Linked DNA regions of Homo sapiens: region 1 is linked to region 2. The links come from fine-mapping of genetic effects on gene expression. A gene starts in region 2. The other region holds a variant in brackets. All regions are shown on one strand. Distances are from middle to middle.

Region 1 (8,000 bases), 36 kb after region 2:
GCGGGAGCCCATCCCTGCCGGAGCCCCTGGGGCCAATGACACGGAGTACGAGATCCGATACTACGAGAAGGTGAGTGCGTGTCTGGGAGGGACCTGGAGCCTGCCCCGCACCTGTCCCGCAGGGCTTCTGGTTCTTCAGGCCATCCTCCCAGCAAAAGCCCTCGTTACTCCCTTTGTAAACATAACCACCCGTCTCCTAGGGGCCCCAGGCTCGAGTCTCCCCCTCCTCCCCCGGACTCCTGCTCTTCCTCCCTCCGCTCAGGTCTATCTCCAACACCAACCATCTCCATTGTCCCCATGTCACCTAGTGTTTCGGTTGACAAAGAGCTTTCTCTGGGGCCCGGTCCAGATTTTGTGTGGCTGAATCTTATACGTATCATTTGTAGAGCCCTTTTAAAGAAAAAGGACACAGAAAGATCATATCATTTCTAATTTTACAAAAGTGCCTGACCATGGAGCACATTGCTGGGTGTGGTGGTGTGCTGGTAGATATTTAACAGCCAGCTTTCCAGAACAATAAATGTATGAGTTATTATAATTCCAGTCATATAAAAAAGTGTAGCACAGCATTTACAGTGATAATAAAATATGTTCAGAACTCTTGATTGTGAACTCCATATGGCCAATTGATCCCCATAGGATACTTGTGCTGATTTTTGCTGACCTCTTGTATCCATTGTCAATCTGTGGTTGCAGCTTAGCTGTGATGTAACAAATGGAGTCACATCCCAATCTGCTCTTTTCCCCGTAAGTTTATTACCTTTATTATTTATTTATTTATTTATTTATTTTGAGACAGAGTTTCATTCTTGTCACCCAGGCTGGAGTGCAGTGACATGATCTCGGCTCACTGCAACCTCCGTCTCCCAGGTTCAAGTGATTCTCCTGCTTCAGCCTCCCAAGTAGCTGGGATTACAGGCATGCACAACTACACACAGCTCATTTTTGTATTTTTAGTAGAGACGAGGTTTCATCGTGTTGGCCAGGCTGGTCTATATCTCCTGACCTCAGGTGATCCACCCGCCTTAGCCTCCCAAAGTGCTGGGATTACTGGTGTGAGCCACTGCACCTGGCCAATTTATTATCTTTAAATCTGATATGCAAACTACTGTTAAACTGTTTCTCACCTTGGTGCAAATTATATTCACTGAAGTGAAACCTCTTTCAGCTTCTACATGTGTCAGAACTTCACTCACTCCTCAATGACATGAGGGACTCCTTTGCTGAAAATAGTTTTTGAATACTGGAAGTCTGTTGAGACCTGTGAGTGTTGGGGATGAGTGGGAAGGAGGAGAGAGTCCTGAGTCACTGCTGGGTGTCTGACCTGGGTAACCCAGAGTCTGAGGTACCACTGACTGAGATGGAGAAGCACTGAGGTGGAAGGGCAGGCTTGGAGCAAGGTGATGAACCTGGTTTTGCTCATCTAGCATTCAGGGGGCCTCTGGGACACCCAGGTAGACTTGCAGGTCTGAAGCTTAAGGGAGAGGCCTGGCTTGGAAAGGGAGAGAAAGAGAGAGAGAGAGAGTGAGAGTGTTGGGGGCTCTCAGCATAGAGACAGTAGCTGCTGCCAGGGGAGAAATTGGGGGAGAGGAATGAGAAGGGGAATGTGTCTGAGAAGAGTGGCCAGGACAGAGCCCTGAGGAATGCTGATGTTTAGGGAGAGCAGCAAAGGACACTGGGAAGCAGGTGCTTAGAAAGGACTCACTGAATGGACTTTGAGGATCAGGGTATAGACAAGAGCCCCAAGGTTGAGCTGGGTGGATGCTCCCAGGTTGTTGGGCATGAAAACCCTCAAAAAGAGGAGCAAGGGCCAGGCTCAGTGGCTACCACCTGTGATTCCAGCACTTTGGGAAGCTGAGACGGGAGGACGGCTTGAGGCCAGGAGTTCAAGACCAGCCTGGGCAACAAAGTGAGACCGCCACCTCTACAAAAAAGAAATTAGCCAGGCATGGTGGTGTGCGCCTGTGGTCCCAGCAACTTGGGATGCTGAAGCAGGAAGATCGCTTGAGCCCGGGAAGTCGAGGCTGCAGTGAGCAGTGGTTGCACCACTGCACTCCAGCCTGGGCAACAGAGCGAGACCCTGTCTCAAAAAAACCCACCAAAACCCCCAAAAACAACAAAAAAGAAGGAACAAGTCCGGGCGTGGTGGTGCACGCCTGTAATCCCAGCACTTCGAGAGGCCAAGGCAGGTGGATCACCTGAGGTCAGGAGTTCGAGACCAGCCTGGCTAACATGGCGAAACCCAGTCTCTATTAAAAAAACAAAAATTAGCCAGACATGGTGGTGGGTGCCTGTAATCCCAGCTACTCAGGAGGCTGAGGCAGGGAGAATTGCTTGAACCCAGGAGGTGGAGGTTGCAGTGAGCCGAGATTGCACCACACTGCATTCCAGCCTAGGTGACACAGCAAGACTCTGCCTCAAAAAAAAAAAAAAAAAAAAAAAAAAAAAAAAAAAAAAAAAAAAGAACAAGTATAAAAGGGCTATATTTGAAAGGCTTCAGTGTACTCTCATGGAGCCTGCTGAGTAGAAGCCTTGCTGGGCCACTGGACCTGGGCGGGTGTCTGGCAGCTCCCCTCTGGAGCCACAGTGCTGCTCATCTCAACCTCTCTCTGCACACCAGTCCAGCCCATGATGCAGAGGGGCTTGCTTACGGCACGTTGCCAATGCCCAGGTAGGCAGCCTTGCTCCTTCCTCCTCTCTGCCCCTAGCCTGCCCTACCTTGTGGGTCCTGAAGCCACTGCTTCTCTGTCTTTCAATGGATTGTTGAGATGCCTGGAAGAGAGATTCTGATTGGCCCAGCTTGGGTCAAAGTCCGTCCCAGTTCCTGAATGCTATGGTCAGAAAGCTGGAGCCACCGAATATCAGTGGGGAGAATAACTTTCTGGGGCTGTGGATATGGCAGGGCCTCTAATAAGGTGTGGGCAGGGACGAAACGACGGGAGGAGCATCTCTAGTATGCCATTGTCAGGTGTGTTGGGGTGGAGCGGGGGGCAGCATGATGTCGAGCAAAAAACACGGGCTCTGCAGGGATTCAGAGGGTGCACCAGCCCCTTCCTTGATGTGAACCTCACCTAAAAAGGAGATGGAAATGCTGACTCCACAGGGCTGTTGTGAGGCTCACAGGAGGCAAAGGGTCTCATGCAGAAGCTGGCACTGAGTAGGCGCTCATCAGTGATGGCTCCAGCTGGGGCCTTGGGGGAGTCTTTACCCCTCTGAACTGGGTTTCCTTATCTGTGAAACAAACAAACAAGATAATACTTTCTGTCCTCTGAGCCTTGCAGGACAGTTGTGAAAAATCAGACATCGAGGAAAGGAAAAGCCTTGTGGGCCATTGGGGGCTTTCATGTGTCAGGGCTCATTCTCTCATTCTGTCCTTTGAGGCTTCAGGCCTGCCTAGGGCACTGGCTCAGCTTAGCCTGGATGGACAGGCCCTGGTGGCCCTCATCCTATCATCCCCCGGAAGGAGGATCTGGTGTCTTCTCTAAAATTTCTCTTATGCAGAGGTGGTGCTATTCTCAGCTACAAGTGCCACCGAGTGTGGGTGGGTGCTTGTGGTGAAGACAGGGGCTAAGGATCCAAGGAAAAGATCCCTGGGAA[A/C]CCCCAAGATGATTGAGGTTGGGTTTTCGCACTCAGCCCACATTCACGTAAGGGCGCTTCTCCTGCCTCCCTGTTCCTGTTCACCCTTTGTTCTCCTAGAACAGTGGATCTGGCGCTGGTGGGCTTCACTTCTTGATCTCTCTCCAGGGTCAGAGTGAGCAGACTTACTCCATGGTGAAGACAGGGGCGCCCACAGTCACCGTCACCAACCTGAAGCCGGCTACCCGCTACGTCTTTCAGATCCGGGCCGCTTCCCCGGGGCCATCCTGGGAGGCCCAGAGTTTTAACCCCAGCATTGAAGTACAGACCCTGGGGGAGGGTAAGTAGTGTGTGTGAGTGGACAGGGACCTAGACAGAGAGAACCCTGCACGGGGCTGAGGTAGGGAGACAAATAGAGGGGGAGAGTTATCTGGAGTTATCTGTGCAATGAAGGGAGCCTGCAGAACAGTTTAATTAATTACAGCCTAATTAATTAATGACTTTGAAATCCACTGACTAATGCCTGTTCACCGACGTGAATTAGATTGGGAAACTGTCCTGGAGGAGCTCACAGGAGAGGGATTTGTGAACAGCTATAACCCATGTCTCAGCTGGATAGAGACTCAGTTTGGATAGAGACCCAAACATGGGACACTGTCCCTTTCCCCACTAGGCCTTAGAGCGTGATGCTGACTTCACTGAAGGTTGATGGACATGAAGGGGTTGCATTGCAGTGATAAACACAAAAATAAGGATTGCGGCCAGGCGCGATGGCTCACACCTGTAATCCCAGCACTTTGGGAGGCTGAGGCAGGTGGATCACCTGAGGTCAGGAGTTCGAGACCAGCCTGGCCAACATGGTGAAACTCCTTCTCTACTAAAAATACAAAAATCAGCCGGGCGTGGTGGCGGGCACCTGTAATCCCAGCTACTCGGGAGGCTGAGGCACAAGAATCACTTAAAACCGGGAGGCAGAGGTTGCAGTGAGCCAAGATTATGCCACTACGTTCCAGCCTAGGTCACAGAGTGAGACTCTGTCTCAAAAAAAAAAGAAGGATTGTGTAACTTAAGTGGGTAAATCACATGGTATGCGAACGATATCTCAATAAAGCTGTTACCAAAACCAAACAAAAACTGGAAATTGAATATCCTCATCTGAAAACATCTCCGGCTTCTCCGCAATATTGTGCTTTCCTCCCTCCTCCTTTACTTCCCTCCCCTGGTTCCTCTTCTCCCCACCCACTGCCCAATTCCCTGATGTGTGCACAGCAGTTTAGCTGTCTTGTTGCTTTGCCTGCTGCTAACCTGGTCCTCAGGATCTCACCTCTATCTGCCCTGAGCAGCTCATGAAAATATTTTCCTGAACAAAGGCAGTTCCCCCTAAGAGGCATTCTGGCACCAGCTGTCAAGATAATAATTCTTTCCAACCTGCTACATGACTCTAATCCAAGATAGGAAGAGCTCTGAGTCCAAAGGGAAGTGAAGATAAAATGCTGAAGGGGTCTGAGTTCTGGGAAGGAAGACCACACTTCTCGCCTGAATGCAAAAAGTGTCAGACCTCGGCCAGGTGCTGGAAAGAGAAGATTATAGCTGGGGATCATTTGAATGTGTACAGATGGGCAGGGAGGCATTCTGGGGAGAGGAAGCTATCTGAACAAAGGCGGGCAGGTTTGGCTGGAGTGGGCGTAGTGGGGGCAGGAGCTGGGGACCGTCAGTGGAGAAGGGCTGATGGTCTCCATTCATTGGGTACCTCTCAGATAGTAGAGACTGCTGAGATCCCCAGTCTCCCTTCTTGTGGCCCTGGCTATGGTTCTCCCAATCTGCAGAGTGTGGTTTCCCATGAGCTGTGTCTCCAAATTGAGATTTTTTTTTTTTTTTGAGGTAGGGTCTTACTGTGTCACCCAGGCTGGAGTGTAGTGGCACAATCACAGCTCCCTGCAGCCTCAACTTTCCAGGCTTAAGTGGTCCTCCCACCTCAGCTTCCCAAGTAGCTGAGACCACAGGCGCTTGCCACCATGACCAGCTAATATTTTTACTTTTTGGGGGTCTCACTATGTTGCTCAGGCTGGTTTCGAACTCCTGGGCTCAGGTGATCCCTCCACTCGGCCTGCCAAAGTGCTGGGATCACAGGTTTGAGCCACTGCCCCCCGCCTTCCAAAGCAGGATCTTTTTCTTTTTTCTTTTTTTAAAAAGAGCGATGGAATCTTGCTATGTTGCTCAGGCTGGTCTCGAACTCCTGGGCTCAAAGCAATTCTCCTGTCTTGGCCTCCCAAAGTGTTAGGATTACAGGTGTGAGCCACCATGCCCAGCCCCAAATCAAGGTCTTGGTGAACGCTTATGCGTCACCACTGTGCTAGTTACCTATTGCTATGTAATGAGTTGCCCCAACATCTAGCAGGTGAAAACAACAAATATTTATAATCTTATGTTTCCATGGATTGGTAATATAGGTGCCTCTCAGCTAGGTGCCAGTGACTTAGGGTCTCTTCCAAGGCTGCCGTCAAGTTGTCCTCAGGGGCTGTGATCATCTCGGGGCTTAGCTGGGGGAGAGTTCACCTCCCTGCTCAGGGTCTTGCTGGCTGCTGCTGAGGCATGCTGTTCCTTGTCCCATGGGCCTCTCCTTAGAGCTGCTCACCACAACCACTGGATTCTTCCAGAGACTGTGAGCCAGGGAGAGGGCACCCAAGACAGAAGCCATTCATCTTGTTTCCTGATCTTGGGAATGACATCCCAATACTCTTGCCATATTCTGTTCATTAGAAATGAGTCCAGCCTGTGCTCATGGGGAATGGATACCAGGAGGTAGGGATGCCATCTCAGAGACTGCCCACTGCTGGCATCTTTCTCCGTTTCTGTGTCCACATGGTTGCCTCATTTCAAACAGTTCTTGGCAACTCTATTCCCCTCTATCCCCACCCAGACCCTCAGCCCTCTTTGCCTCTGGAACCCTGGGCTCTGAAATGCCCTCTCTGACTCTAGCATTTTTGGCTTCTAACTCTCGTCTTCTGTTCCTCCTCACTTGCTCTGTGACATCCGAAAGACTGCTCACTGGATCCTACCTCATCTCCCAGACTTTTAGCTCCTCCTGGCCCCACACCCATCTCTATCCAGCCCCTGCAGATGATCTCATCAGAAATACTCCCCAACTCTGCCAACCCTCATTCCCTGGGCACCTTGCTGCACCCACCTGCTAGTCCCCAGACTTGGACCTTTCTCCTCCCTGTGTCCCACGCGGAAGCTGCCTAAAGAGGTGTACTTTCCAATCTCAGTTCAGTCTTCAGGGCCACTTAGTACTTTTCCCATTCCTAATAGTTATGCCAAACCTTCACCTCTCTCAAGCACCTCTTCTCCATCCTCACTCCCACCTCAGCAGACACCCTCATTCCTTTTCTTCTTAGGCAGGAACTCTCTCCACTGCTCCCTGTCACCCACAGGAGAAAGTTTATACTCCTTAGCTTAGCGTTCAAGGCCCTCCAGGTTCTGGCTCCCCCAGTTCCCTCCATCTTCCCACCCTCCAGCTTCCTATTTGCCACTCTCCGCCTTCATGCAGTCTGTTTCCCAGACACAGGGGACGACTTGCCATTTTCAGACCCAGTGTGTGCATCAAAGCACCATCAAAAATCCTTCCAGTCTCCAGGTCCAGTTCAGATGGCACCTTTTTTTGTGAAGCCTTCCTCATTGGCTTTAGGAAGAAATTATTGTGCCTCTGCTCAGCTCTGCTCATTTCTGTTTCTTTTTTCATTCTACAGTTAAGATTTTTGTTTCTGTCTCACCCGTAGGCCCATTCACCCCTCTCTCCTCAGTACTAATGCAAACCAGGCACATAGGTTGGATGGATGGATGGGTTGATTGGATAGATCGATGAATAGGGCTGAGAGCGAGGGTCCTCTAGGCTGATCTCTTGGAGAAATAGTTCAAAGCAGAAGCTTTGGAATCAGGCAGAGACTTTTGGAGTGATGCTCAAATCTTAGGTTCACCACTTTTTAGCCATGTGATCTTGGGCAAATTATGTAATTTCTCAACCTCAGTTTCCTCAGCTGTAAGATGAAGATGGTAATACCTTCCTGGATTATTGTGAAGATGAAACAAGACAGTATAGTGTAGGCACATGGCCCAGTGTCTTGAATGGAGTAAGGTGCAGTTACCGTTAGCCCTTTTTATTATTGTTGGTGGATGGTCTGGACTGGGGGTAGGGAGCTCAGAGCAGAGGCCATTCCTCCTGCAGAGCAACTTTGAGTCCCTCACTGCTCATCTGAAAGGCATAGAGGGAGGCCTGGCCCTGCCTGTCTGGACTCCTGCCTCTCTGAGCAGGAGCTGGGCTGCTGTGGAGGTGTTCTGCCCTGAGAGCAGAGGAAGCTCTTGGGACTCCAGGTGCCACTGTGGTCAGTGGGACTGCCTTGGCGCCTCTGTGGCTGGGAGGCAGT
Region 2 (11,206 bases):
GCAGTGGTGCAATCTTGGCTCACTGCAACCTCCACTTCCCAGGTTCAAGCAATCCTCCTGCCTCAGCCTCCCCAGTAGCTGGGACTATGGGAGCGTGCCACCATGCCTGGTTAATTTTTGTATTTTTAGTAGAGATGGGGTTTCACCATGTTGGCCAGGCTGGTCTTGAACTCCTGACCTCAGGTGATCCGCCTGCCTCGGCCTCCCAAAGTGCTGGTATTACAGGCATGAGCCACCACACTCCACCATTGTCAGTCTTAATGTTGTTCCTTTGAAGGTAATGTGTCTCTCCCTCTCTAATTGCTTTTAATATTTTTTCTTTGTCTTTGGTTTTCAGCAGTTTTATTATGAAATGCTTAAATACAGTTTTCGGCCAACTGTGGTGGCTCATGCTTATAATCTCAGCACTTTGGGAGGCCGAGGTGGGCAGATCACTTGAGGTAGGGAGTTTGAGACAAGCCTGGCCAACATGGCAAAACCCTGTCTCTAATAAAAATACAAAAATTAGCTGGGCATGGTGGCACGTGCCTCAGCTACTCGGGAGGCTGAGGCAGGAGGATTGCTCGAACCCGGGAGGCAGAGGGTTGCAGTGAGCCGACATGACACCACTGCACTCCAGCGTGGGTGACAGAGTGAGACGCTGTCTCAAAAAAAAAAAGTGTAGTTTTCTTTGCATTTATCCTGCTTGGGATTGATAGTGCTTCTTGAGTATGTGTCTTGATATCTTTCATCAATTTTGGAAAATTTTCAACTACTCTCTTTTCAAATAGTACTTCTTTCCTGTTTCCTCTTTCTAGGACTCTAATTCCATGTATTTAGGCCTTTTTGCCATGTCCCATATGTCTCTTTCTCTCTTACCTATATATATATTTTTTATTATACTTTAAGTTTTAGGGTACATGTGCGCAACGTGCAGGTTAGTTACATATGTATACATGTGCCATGTTGGTGTGCTGCACCCATTAACTCATCATTTAACATTAGGTATATCTCCTAATGCTATCCCTCCCCCCTCCCCCCACCCCACAACAGGTCCCGGTGTGTGATGTTGCCTGCCCTTCCTGTGTCCATGTGTTCTCATTGTTCAATTCCCACCTATAAGTGAGAATATGCAGTGTTTGGTTTTTTGTCCTTGTGATAGTTTGCTGAGAATGATGGTTTCCAGCTTCATCCATGTCCCTACAAAGGACATGAACTCATCATTTTTTATGGCTGCATAGTATTCCATGGTGTATATGTGCCACATTTTCTTAATCCAGTCTATCATTGTTGGACATTTGGCTTGGTTCCAAGTCTTTGCTATTGTGAATAGTGCCACAATAAACATATATGTGCATGTGTCTTTATAGCAGCATGATTTATAATCCTTTGGGTATATACCCAGTAATGGGATTGCTGGGTCAAATGGTATTTCTAGTTCTAGATCCCTGAAGAATGGCCACACTGACTTCCACAAGGGTTGAACTAGTTTACAGTCCCACCAACAGTGTAAAAGTGTTCCTATTTCTCCACATCCTTTCCAGCACCTGTTGTTTCCTGACTTTTTAATGATTGCCATTCTAACTGGTGTGAGATGGTATCTTATTGTGGTTTTGATTTGCATTTCTCTGATGGCCAGTGATGATGAGCACTTTTTCATCTGTCTTTTGGCTGCATAAATGTCTTCTTTTGAGAAGTGTCTGTTCATATCCTTTGCCCACTTGTTGATGGGGTTGTTTGTTTTTTTCTTGTAGATTTGTTTGAGTTCATTGTAGATTCTGGATATTAGCCCTTTGTCAGATGAGCAGATTGCAAAAATTTTCTCCCATTCTGTAGGTTGCCTGTTCACTCTGATGGTAGTTTCTTTTGCTGTGCAGAAGCTCTTTAGTTTAATTAGATCCTATTTGTCAATTTTGGCTTTTGTTGCCATTGCTTTTTGTGTTTTAGACATGAAGTCCTTGCCCATGCCTATTTTCAATTCTTTTCTCTCTTCTGATACTAGATATTTTATGCTGAAACTATATTTCACATCATTAATCCTAGAATTAGCTGTGTCTAACCTGCTATCAGCTCCATCTACTATGTTAAATTCAATTATTATATTTTTCAGTTCTAGGATTTCAATTGCATTCTTTTTTAGAGTATCCAGGTTTGGTGATTTTGCACTCTACCAGAATTCCAATGCAAAATCTTACTGTTCTATACAGATCTACTCCTATCCAATTATATCAACCAATACAATCTCATTTTTGTTTAAGCCAGTTTTATTTGGTTTCCTGTTAAACACGACTGAAAAATCTTAACTGCCAATGTGGAGATATCCCCCTTCATGATGTTGTAATAATGGCTGCAGCAGCTCCAGGTGTCAAATGCAGACATGACATCCAGAGAAGAAGTGGAATGCTGCCTGTCATCCATCTCTGTTTATTAGGAGTGAAAATCTTTTCTATAATTTCTAATTCAGAAGGCCAGGGTTGTAATCACACACTACATGGAATGGGATGGGAATGATTACCAAACAGCAATCTTTACTTATCCCTGAACTTGGGGAGAGGATCATCTTTCACTAGCAAACAACTACAGTAGAAGAACATCCAAATAAAACTGGGACTCTGCCAGCAATATAAAATATGAAAGGGGAAAGCTATTGGGTAAATAATCAACAGTGTTTATGACACTAATAGATGTATTAATTTTCTGTAAAGTTGTGTGTGTGGGTAGAAAATATCAGGAATTGTACATATCAATCTTTAGCAGAATTTAAATTTGGGAGGGGGACTATCTGGAGTGGAAAGGATGGATATTTTTACTTATACAATTTTCATTAGTTTATATTACTTTGGTGATTTAAATTTAAAAGAACTTCAATCTAAAAATGGGCTGCTCAGAAGTAGAGCTAGAACAAAAATATAGAGTCAGAAGGCTGGATATGGTGGTCCACACCTGTAATCCCAATGCTTTGGGAGGTCGAGGCAGGAGGATCACTTTAGGCCAGACTTTGAGACCAGCCTGGGGAACATAGTGATACCCTGTCTCTACAAAAGAAAAAATAAAAAGAATTATGAGCATGGTGGTGTGTGCCTGTAGTCCTAGCTACCCAGGAGGTTGGAGGATTGCTTGAACCCAGGAGGTTGAGGCTGCAGTGAGCTATGATTGCACCACTGCACTCCAGCCTGGGCAACAGAGTGCTTGTCTCTAATACATACATAAATATATGTATGTGTATATATATATATATGTGTGTGTGTGTGTGTGTGTGTGTGTGTGTATGTGTGTGTGTATGTATATATGTATTAGGGAGAGAGAGAGAGAGAGAGAGAGAGAGTCAGAGAAGCACATATTTGTATATTCCATCCCAGTCCTGGCCCCTACACAGTTACTCAGGTGCCAGTAGCAGGTTTATTCCTTCTGGGGATTTGGAGGCACAAAGCTATCCGAGCCTGATGCCATCAAATATTTAAACCATTCACCTCCCTCCCGTCCCACTCTCAAAGCTGTCTTCACATCATAAATTGGCTTCCTGTGCATATTTTCCTACGGGGAAAGAATGTGCTGGACATGGCATTGTGAGCATTCTGGTCCCCTTGGCAGTTCTATTTCTCATCATAAATTAATACATTGCTTCTCTGGCTCAGATAGCAGGATAGGAGCTGGGTTAGTAGGATCTACTTTCCATTCCCCAATAGATAGGTTCTCTCTTAATGCTGTTAAAGTCAAGTTCATAAGCCTGGACCATGATGAATTTACCAAGGTAAAAGTCACCTCTGATGCCACTTGTCAGCTGGCCAGCCAGCCTGCCCTGATGACACTCCTGTCTCTTCAAGCACATTTCTTTCAGACTCCTGTGCTTCCTAGCCACATTCATCTCAATCAGCTGTCTCTTTCTTTATCCCTCATTCTGTCTTTTCCTCTATGACTCTCTCTCTCTAATTATATATATCTTTCTCTCTTCCTACTTCACCACTTAATCTTCCTTTATCTTTTTTTTTTTTATTTGACGGAATTTCTCTCTTTTTTGCTCTGGCTGGAGTGCAATGGCATAATTTCGGCTCACTGCAACCTCTGCCTCCCGAGTTCAAGCAATTCTCCTGCCTCAGCCTCCTGAGTAGCTGGGACTACAGGTGCACACCACTATGTCCAGCTATTTTGTACTTTTAGTAGAGATGGAGTTTCACCATGTTGGCCAGACTGGTCTCGAACTCCTGACCTCAGGTAATCCATTCGCCTCAGCCTCCCAAAGTGCTGTGGTTACAGGTGTAAGCCACCGTGCCCAGACTTCTTTTCCTTTTTTCTTCTGTTTTTTGTTTGTTTGTTTGTTGTTGTTGTTGTTTACCTTAATTAACCATGGAGTTGAAAAATAATATATACCAGAGCTATGTGCCAAGCACAGAGCTGGGTCACATGTAAAAATTATATTCTGACCTCACAATAACTCTGAAAACTGTTTTTGTTCCTATTTTACAAAGAAAGAAGTGGAGGCTCATAAAGGGTAAGTGGTTGTGTTTCATAATCTTAAAGGTTTTCTCTGCTGAATTTTCAAAATTAGTAAATTAAATGCTTTGTGCTTCCTTTATCTAAGAAAATACAGTTTAGGCCAGGCATGGTGGCTCATGCCTATAATCCCAGCACTTTGGGAGGCTGAGGTGGGTGGATCACTTGAGGTCAGGAGTTTGAGACCAGCCTGGCCAACATGGCGAAACCCCATCTCGACTAAAAATACAAAATTAGCCAGCTGTGGTGGTGTGCACTTGTAGTCCCAGCTACTTGGGAGGCTGAGGCAGGAGAATCGCTTGAACCTGGGAAGCAGAGGTTGCAGTGGACTGAAATCAGGCCACTGCACTCCAGCCTGGGCAACAGAGTGAGACACTGTCTCAAAAAAAAAAAAAAGATGACCCTTTGAACAATAAAGCTCTCACTGCTCTTTGCCTCTCCCCATCCTTCTTCCTGAGAGTGGGACTTGACCCTGATTCCTCTGACACAAACTTAAACTTCTTTATGGAGGAGATAACCTTCTCTGTCCAGTCAGGCTCAACATACTTTCTGTATCTGTGCAAAAGGAAGAGGTCAAATCTTCAGCACCTAGATTTGTAACTTTCAGTAACTTGGAGATGGAGGTTGTGGTAACATTAAATCTGCTCCCTGGAAGGTCACTTTTTATTATTTTGGGTGTTTAATTAAGTTGCTCGGCCTCATCAAGTGTCCTCCCCATGATCCTAGAAGATAGTGAGGTAGAAGTAGAGAGGAGTATCCCTTCCAGCCTGCTTCAGTAGAGTTCTGAGAGGAGCAAAAGAGAAAACAAGATGTTTCTGGGTGGGTTCCAGGCCCCTCCACCCTTCTGCAAGGGAGTGAAGGGTGCTTATCTCCTGAAGACATGAATTGATGGATTTTGGTTATAGGCCGGAGGAGCAGATGCAACCACTGTATTTTCTTAGGTAAAGGAAATATAAAGCATTTAATTTACTAATTTTGAAAATTAAGCAGAGAAAATCTTTAAGATTATGAAGCAAAACTACTTACTCTTTATGATCCTGCCAAGGATCAGAACATGGCAGCAGAGAAGTCCGAGGTCTAACTGAATGTCCAGACTCTGTTGGATTCAGCACCATAGACAGAAAGCAGCCCAAAGCTGCTGAGGGCTGAGGGTTGAATGCCATAGACAGATACCCCTTCTCTGTCCCCACCCCCAATTTCACTAGTCCCCATTGCTATTCCTGGGAGGAACCTAACCCCTTCCATTAGTTAACTGGCCCCCAGCACTTAAAGGTCGAGATAAACAATGGGTTGGTTTCCTTCTAAGGCCCTCCGGAATTTCTTTACTGAGCTTTCAGTTCTGCGGCTTCCTGGTAGAGTGGGGTCCGCCTTAGAGCAACTCTTATTAACATCCAGCTGATTTGCATATATCTGCATTCACTGGGGCTTCTCCATTCTGGTTTTATTGTAAATGAATTGCTCAGAGGAAGAAAGGGAAGGATTATTTCACTCCTTTTTTTTCCTCTTCTTTCCCCCTATTCCTAGGGTCTCTGTCTGGAAATTTCCCCCAGATGCGTGAAGGTGTGTGTGGTGGAAGAGGGTAGAAACCAGACTCCAACAGTCAGGTATTTGCCAGAGCATCCTATGTAGATTTCCCCAGATAATTTCCCCCATCTGTTTGGTTTCTGAAAGATCCTTGTCAGGTTCAGAGGAAGTCTGTATTTTGTTTTAGCACCGAGGGTCAGAACCTCTGGGCTGAAGTCCCTGGAGCTTCAGTAAGAAGCCATGATTGGTGCCTTAGAGCCTGCTAAGGGGATGGAACCCGGTTTTAAAGAGGAGTGAGGGGTGGTGGAGTGAGGACTCATTTTGAAATGAAAGGAGTCCTGGGTCTCTAAGCAGCTTCTAAAAATACCATCTCCCAGAGGTGGAGGCAGGGGGAGGGGAGAAATCGAGCGTGAGGAGAATGAAGATGGAAAGGAGGTGGCAGTGTGAGAACCCTTCCTCAGGTAGGTCTGGTTTTAGAAGTCCCGCCTGCATCCAAGGACTGGAGGGATGCCACACCTCCTTCTGCTTCCTCAGGGGGCTTGTCTCCTGTGGTGTCCAAGCCACAGCCTCTCCTGATGACCTTTCTTTCTGCAGGTAAAGAAGACCAATTCCTCCCACCTACTCCTCCTATTGCTACTGTCCAGCAAGTATGTCTGAGTGGGCACGTGTGCATTTACTCGCACATATACACAAGCACACACGCAGAAATGGCACATGAAAGCGGGTTGTAAATGGCCAGTGATCTACGATGCCAGGAATCCTCCTTACACTCGGCGTTCAAAGAGGTATGGACTCTGGCAGAGACAGCGTGGTTCACCAGGGCATCCGCAGCACAGAGCATGGCGCCCAGTGAGGGCTGGGTAGAGGGGTGAGGGATACATATATGCAAAAGCACAGACACTCAGACCGCAGGGGCCAAGTAGTCACAGGACTCACACTCACTCTCGAGGTTTCTCAGGCTATATTCGCTTCCAAATAGAGAGGGGGTGGGTCCCCCAAGAAAAGAGCTCGGAAAAGCCACGAGGTGGGTGGAGCTTTCTCCCCTCAAGTTCAGCCCAGATGGTGGCGCTCAGTAGCCGCCTCCCTCGTCCTGGAGGGCCCCAACCCTTCCCACCACCAAAGTGTTAAACCCTCAGCTTGCACATAAATGACCTTCACTAGACAGAGGTCTTGTTCCACGTTTTCTTGCGGCTTCTTCAGCGCCGGCTGAACTCTGCCAGGATTGCTCCGCCTCTCTCGCAGATGTCTCCGATTCCTGGCCTCTGTGCTGTTCACCAGTCCCCTGGGGTGGGCGGAGTGGGGTGATCAAAGAGGGGAACCCCCGACTCTGAGCAGACTGAGGGCATGGGTGGTTGTGAGGTGTGCTGCTTGTATCTTGACAGCAGGAGCAAGAACCTGAGGAACCGATCGTTCATGCAAAACCGCCACCGCCCCCATCCCAGCGTCCACATGGTTTCCCAGCCTCGGAAGCGCGTTGGTAGGGCAGGACCCCGTCCCTCACTTTGCTCTCCTTTCCCGAGCAGCTCCCGGGATCGTTCGGCCCCTCCTTCCTGCCGCTGTGTGTGTGTGTGTGTGTGTGTGTGTGTGTGTGTGTGTGTGTGTGTGATGAGGGCGGGAAGAGAAAGGGGGGGATGAGCTAGGAGACACCGGGAGCCTCAGACACAGGAACAGACCTAGGGCAGGGAGACAGGAGAGCTCCCCAGAGCTTGGGGTCAGGACATAAAGCTTCAAAACCCCGCAAGTCCTGGGAACAAGGGAGCTTTCAGACTAGCTCAGAGGCTGCAAGTGTTGCTGCCTCCCCGAGGGTCGCCCCTCCTTAAGCCAAGCCCACCTTGCCTGCCTACTTCTCAGGAATGAGGAGCTAAGGTTTAGCGCTCTGGGCCACCGATGCCAGCTCATTCCCCTCTCGCAGAAGCCCTGCCAGCTCCCACAGCTGCCCCACCCCCCACGGTTTGGAGATCTGCAGGACCCCTTCCTTTCCCCACCAGTTGGGTGTTCCGCCCCTGGCCTATGAAACTCCACCTTCCCACCCTCTGCTGGCGGGGATTGGTTGGCATCCCGCGGCGGTGCCTAGTGATTGGTTCCCATGGATGATGGTGAGCGGTGAGACTCCGCCCCCCGCTGGCTCTGGGGTCTGGGGGCATTGCTCAGCGGTGCTAGGCTGGCGCGGCTTGAGCCGCCGCCGGACTGACAGCTCGGTCTGCGGACCATGGAGACCTGCGCCGGTCCACACCCGCTGCGCCTCTTCCTCTGCCGGATGCAGCTCTGTCTCGCGCTGCTTTTGGGACCCTGGCGGCCTGGGACCGCCGAGGAAGGTGAGAAGACTGGTGAGCTCTGCTCGGAGCGTGGCATACCAAAAGATAGGGGGCTGGCGATGGGGGTTCTGGGGGAAGGAGTCATTGGAGAGACTAGAGTCTGTATTGGGGCTTGAAGCAAGCAGGCAGCAAAGAACTGGAGAGACAGAGAAAAATGTGATCAAGCAGTAGCGAAGAGAGGGGCGCTGAGGAGCTTGGGGGCTGGAGACCCGGGAGGTTGGGAAAGAAAGAGGCCAGGAACCGCGGGAGCCAGAGGCGGCGGTCCAGCGGCCGGTGAGACGGACAAGCTGAGTGATTGGAGGTGGGAGGTGCGGGGGCGGGGAGATGAAGAGTGGAGACAGGGAGATGCGGAGGTGAGCTCGGAATATGGGGAGACGGGATGGAGCCCGGACTACAGGGGCTAGGAGACCACAGTGTGGCCAACAGAAGGTGGAATGCTGGTCGAGGGGGCTGGATCCGGGCGCTGCCCGACGTGCTGATCATGGAACTGTCCGCAGTGCTGAATTCTGAGCGTAGTCTGCCGGGCGCGCTCCGCGTTGCCGGGTTTGAGGCTGTCGGCGATACTGGAGCCCGCGTCTTGCCTCTGATTGTGCATTTAGGGGAGCTATACGCTCAGTTGAATCCAGAGGCGTCATATCTAGGTGCAGAATCCGGAGGAGCTGGAATCTGAGGCGTTGACCGCGGGGTTGGTCTGGGCCCTGGATGGCTGATGCCTTCCAGTTCGCGATTCCGATGTGCTGTCAGTTGCGCGGATCTCGGAAAGCCGTCGGCGGTCCTGCCCACAGTCGCTGACGCCTCTGGAGAGGCCCTCACCTTGGTGGCCCACCCCCTGGTTTAAGCTCCAGAGGGTAATCTCCCAAGACTCCGGGGTGTCCTGACCTCCTGTCTCTGGTCTGCGGACTCTGCTGTCCAAACCATTTTCTGTGATCCATGCTGAGAGGTTGCAGGCTGCTGATCCGATGCCTCCTGGGGGAATAAAGGGACTTCAAGCTTCTCTGGTAGGAAGGGTCATAGATGTATACATAAAAGAACCCCAGACATTCTTTCAAAAGCAGTGGAAGTGACAGCCCCTGGGAAAAGGGCTGGCTGAGGAGAAGAGAGATTTTATTTCTCCAGTTGTTAGCAGTATCTCTCCACATTGTTTTCTCAGAGGCCCGGGAGTCAGTCTAAAAATGTTCAAGTCTTCATGCCTGGGGACCACCGACCTCAGAAAAGCCCCTGAGTAGGAGTGGATTGGGGGGTATATACAGGAATCCCCTGATACATTCACTACTCACTTTCTCTCTCTCTCTCTCTCTAATTGACTCTTAGCTATAATTTTGGGAACCTAAGAAGGCTGGGGAGAGTCACTGACTCCCACCCCCAATCTGAGAGCCAACCTTAGAGTATTTGCCATGGACCCTGTAGAAGGCTGAATGATGACCCCCACCCCCAATATGTCAATGTCCTAATCCCTAGAACCGTGAATGTTAGCTTAATTGACAAAAAGGACTTTGCATATGTGATTAGTGATCTTTTGAGATGGAGAGGTTGTTTTAGATTATCTGGATGGGCCCAATAATCACAATGGTCCTTGTATGAGGGGTGCAGGAGGAGCCAGAGTCAGAGGAGGAGGCAGTGTGATGACTGAGGCAGAGATTAAAGTGATGTGATTTGAAGATGGAGGAGGGGACCACAAGCTAGGGACTACAGGCGGCCACCAGACGCTGAAGATGGTAAGGACATGAGTTCTCCCCTCAGAGCCTCCAAAAGAAAACAGTCCTGCTGACACCTTGACTCTAGACCAGTGAAAGTGGCTTTGGGCTTCTGACCTCCAGAACTGTAACAGAAAAATATTGTGTTGTTTTAAGCCACTAAATTTGTGGTAATATGTTACAGCAGCCCCAGGAACTGAATACAAGCTCCTTCCCTACTGACTGTGGCTACCTCTCTCTGGATTTGAGCTATTCACACCCCTCCTGGGGATGTATGGAGTGGGAAAAACTTGCCCATATCATTTGTCACATATTGCATTCTCTCAGCAAATTTACAGGGACTTCACCAAAGGATTCCACTCTCTTGCTAAACTGACCTTCTCGATTTCTGATATTTCTGTCTTCCCCTCTCCTTAGTTATCCTCCTGGATTCCAAAGCCTCCCAGGCCGAGCTGGGCTGGACTGCACTGCCAAGTAATGGGGTAAGTGCACAAGTGTCCCTCCCTGTCCCAGGGATCCTCTGGTGGTCCAGGACACAGTCTCCTCAGCTCCTCATGTTTACATCAGACAAAAGTGCTCCTCAGAGTGTGTGGTCTCCAGCAGCCCTGGCTTCAAGCCAGAGTGGCCTGTTAGAAAACATTGAGTCTTCAGCCAGTTAGACAGTCAAAAAAAAAAAAAAAAGTGAATAAGTGAGGAGAGAACTGGCTGTCTAGGAACAGAAATGTGGCATCTGGATGGAGCTAATACAGGACAGTGGCTTGCACATAGTAGTAGATCCTCCAAGCAATGTTGTTGATTGATTGACACAGCAAGCAAGACTGGGAGTCCTAAAAGAGGCTTGGAGACTTGGGGTAGGGGAGGATGATGTGGGCTGTAACAGCAGCTTGGTGGAGTGCAAAGGGCACTGGTCAGAGAGTCAGGAAACTACAGGCACCATTCCTAGCTCCACCACTAACTTGATGTGCATACCTGGTCAGATCGCTCTCCCTCTGGAGCCTCAGTTTCCCCATCTATAAAAATAAGGATTGGGATCATTTGTTTCCAAAGTTTCTCCCAGCGCTGCATCTTACAATTTCCGGGGTGTGCATGGTGCATGAGAGAGAAAGCAGGAGTCACTGCTAGCGCTCCACCTCCTGGAAGCACTTTGGCTCTGGGCTGCCCACCCCTTTACTCTTGTCCCCAGTGGGAGGAGATCAGCGGCGT

Direction of the effects. Positions count from the first base shown, and alleles are read on the strand shown. Sizes are in standard deviations (SD) of each study's normalised expression.
For the expression in cerebral cortex of the gene that starts at base 8,150 in region 2, allele C in region 1 goes with a higher level than allele A (small effect, 0.30 SD a copy in GTEx).

The links.
Region 1: its variant is fine-mapped to the expression of EPHA10 in cerebral cortex (GTEx, PIP 0.99). The same link has a PIP of 0.9 or more in prefrontal cortex.

What each region holds. Positions count from the first base shown.
Region 1 is chr1:37,727,327-37,735,326 of GRCh38, reverse strand. EPHA10 (EPH receptor A10) reads left to right here. Exons shown (of 17, transcript NM_001099439.2): 6 at 1-70; 7 at 3,745-3,916. Among named protein-coding and RNA genes, the nearest start is that of EPHA10, 34 kb to the left of the region's middle. RefSeq lists an enhancer at 7,718-8,000. The variant A/C (reference allele first, on the strand shown) is at 3,598.
Region 2 is chr1:37,762,064-37,773,269 of GRCh38, reverse strand. EPHA10 (EPH receptor A10) reads left to right here and starts at 8,150. Exons shown (of 17, transcript NM_001099439.2): 1 at 8,150-8,309; 2 at 10,421-10,485; 3 at 11,187-11,206. The coding sequence starts at 8,204. LOC105378650 (a long non-coding RNA gene) reads left to right here and starts at 5,954. Exons shown (of 3, transcript XR_947192.2): 1 at 5,954-6,074; 2 at 6,589-6,779; 3 at 7,377-7,541.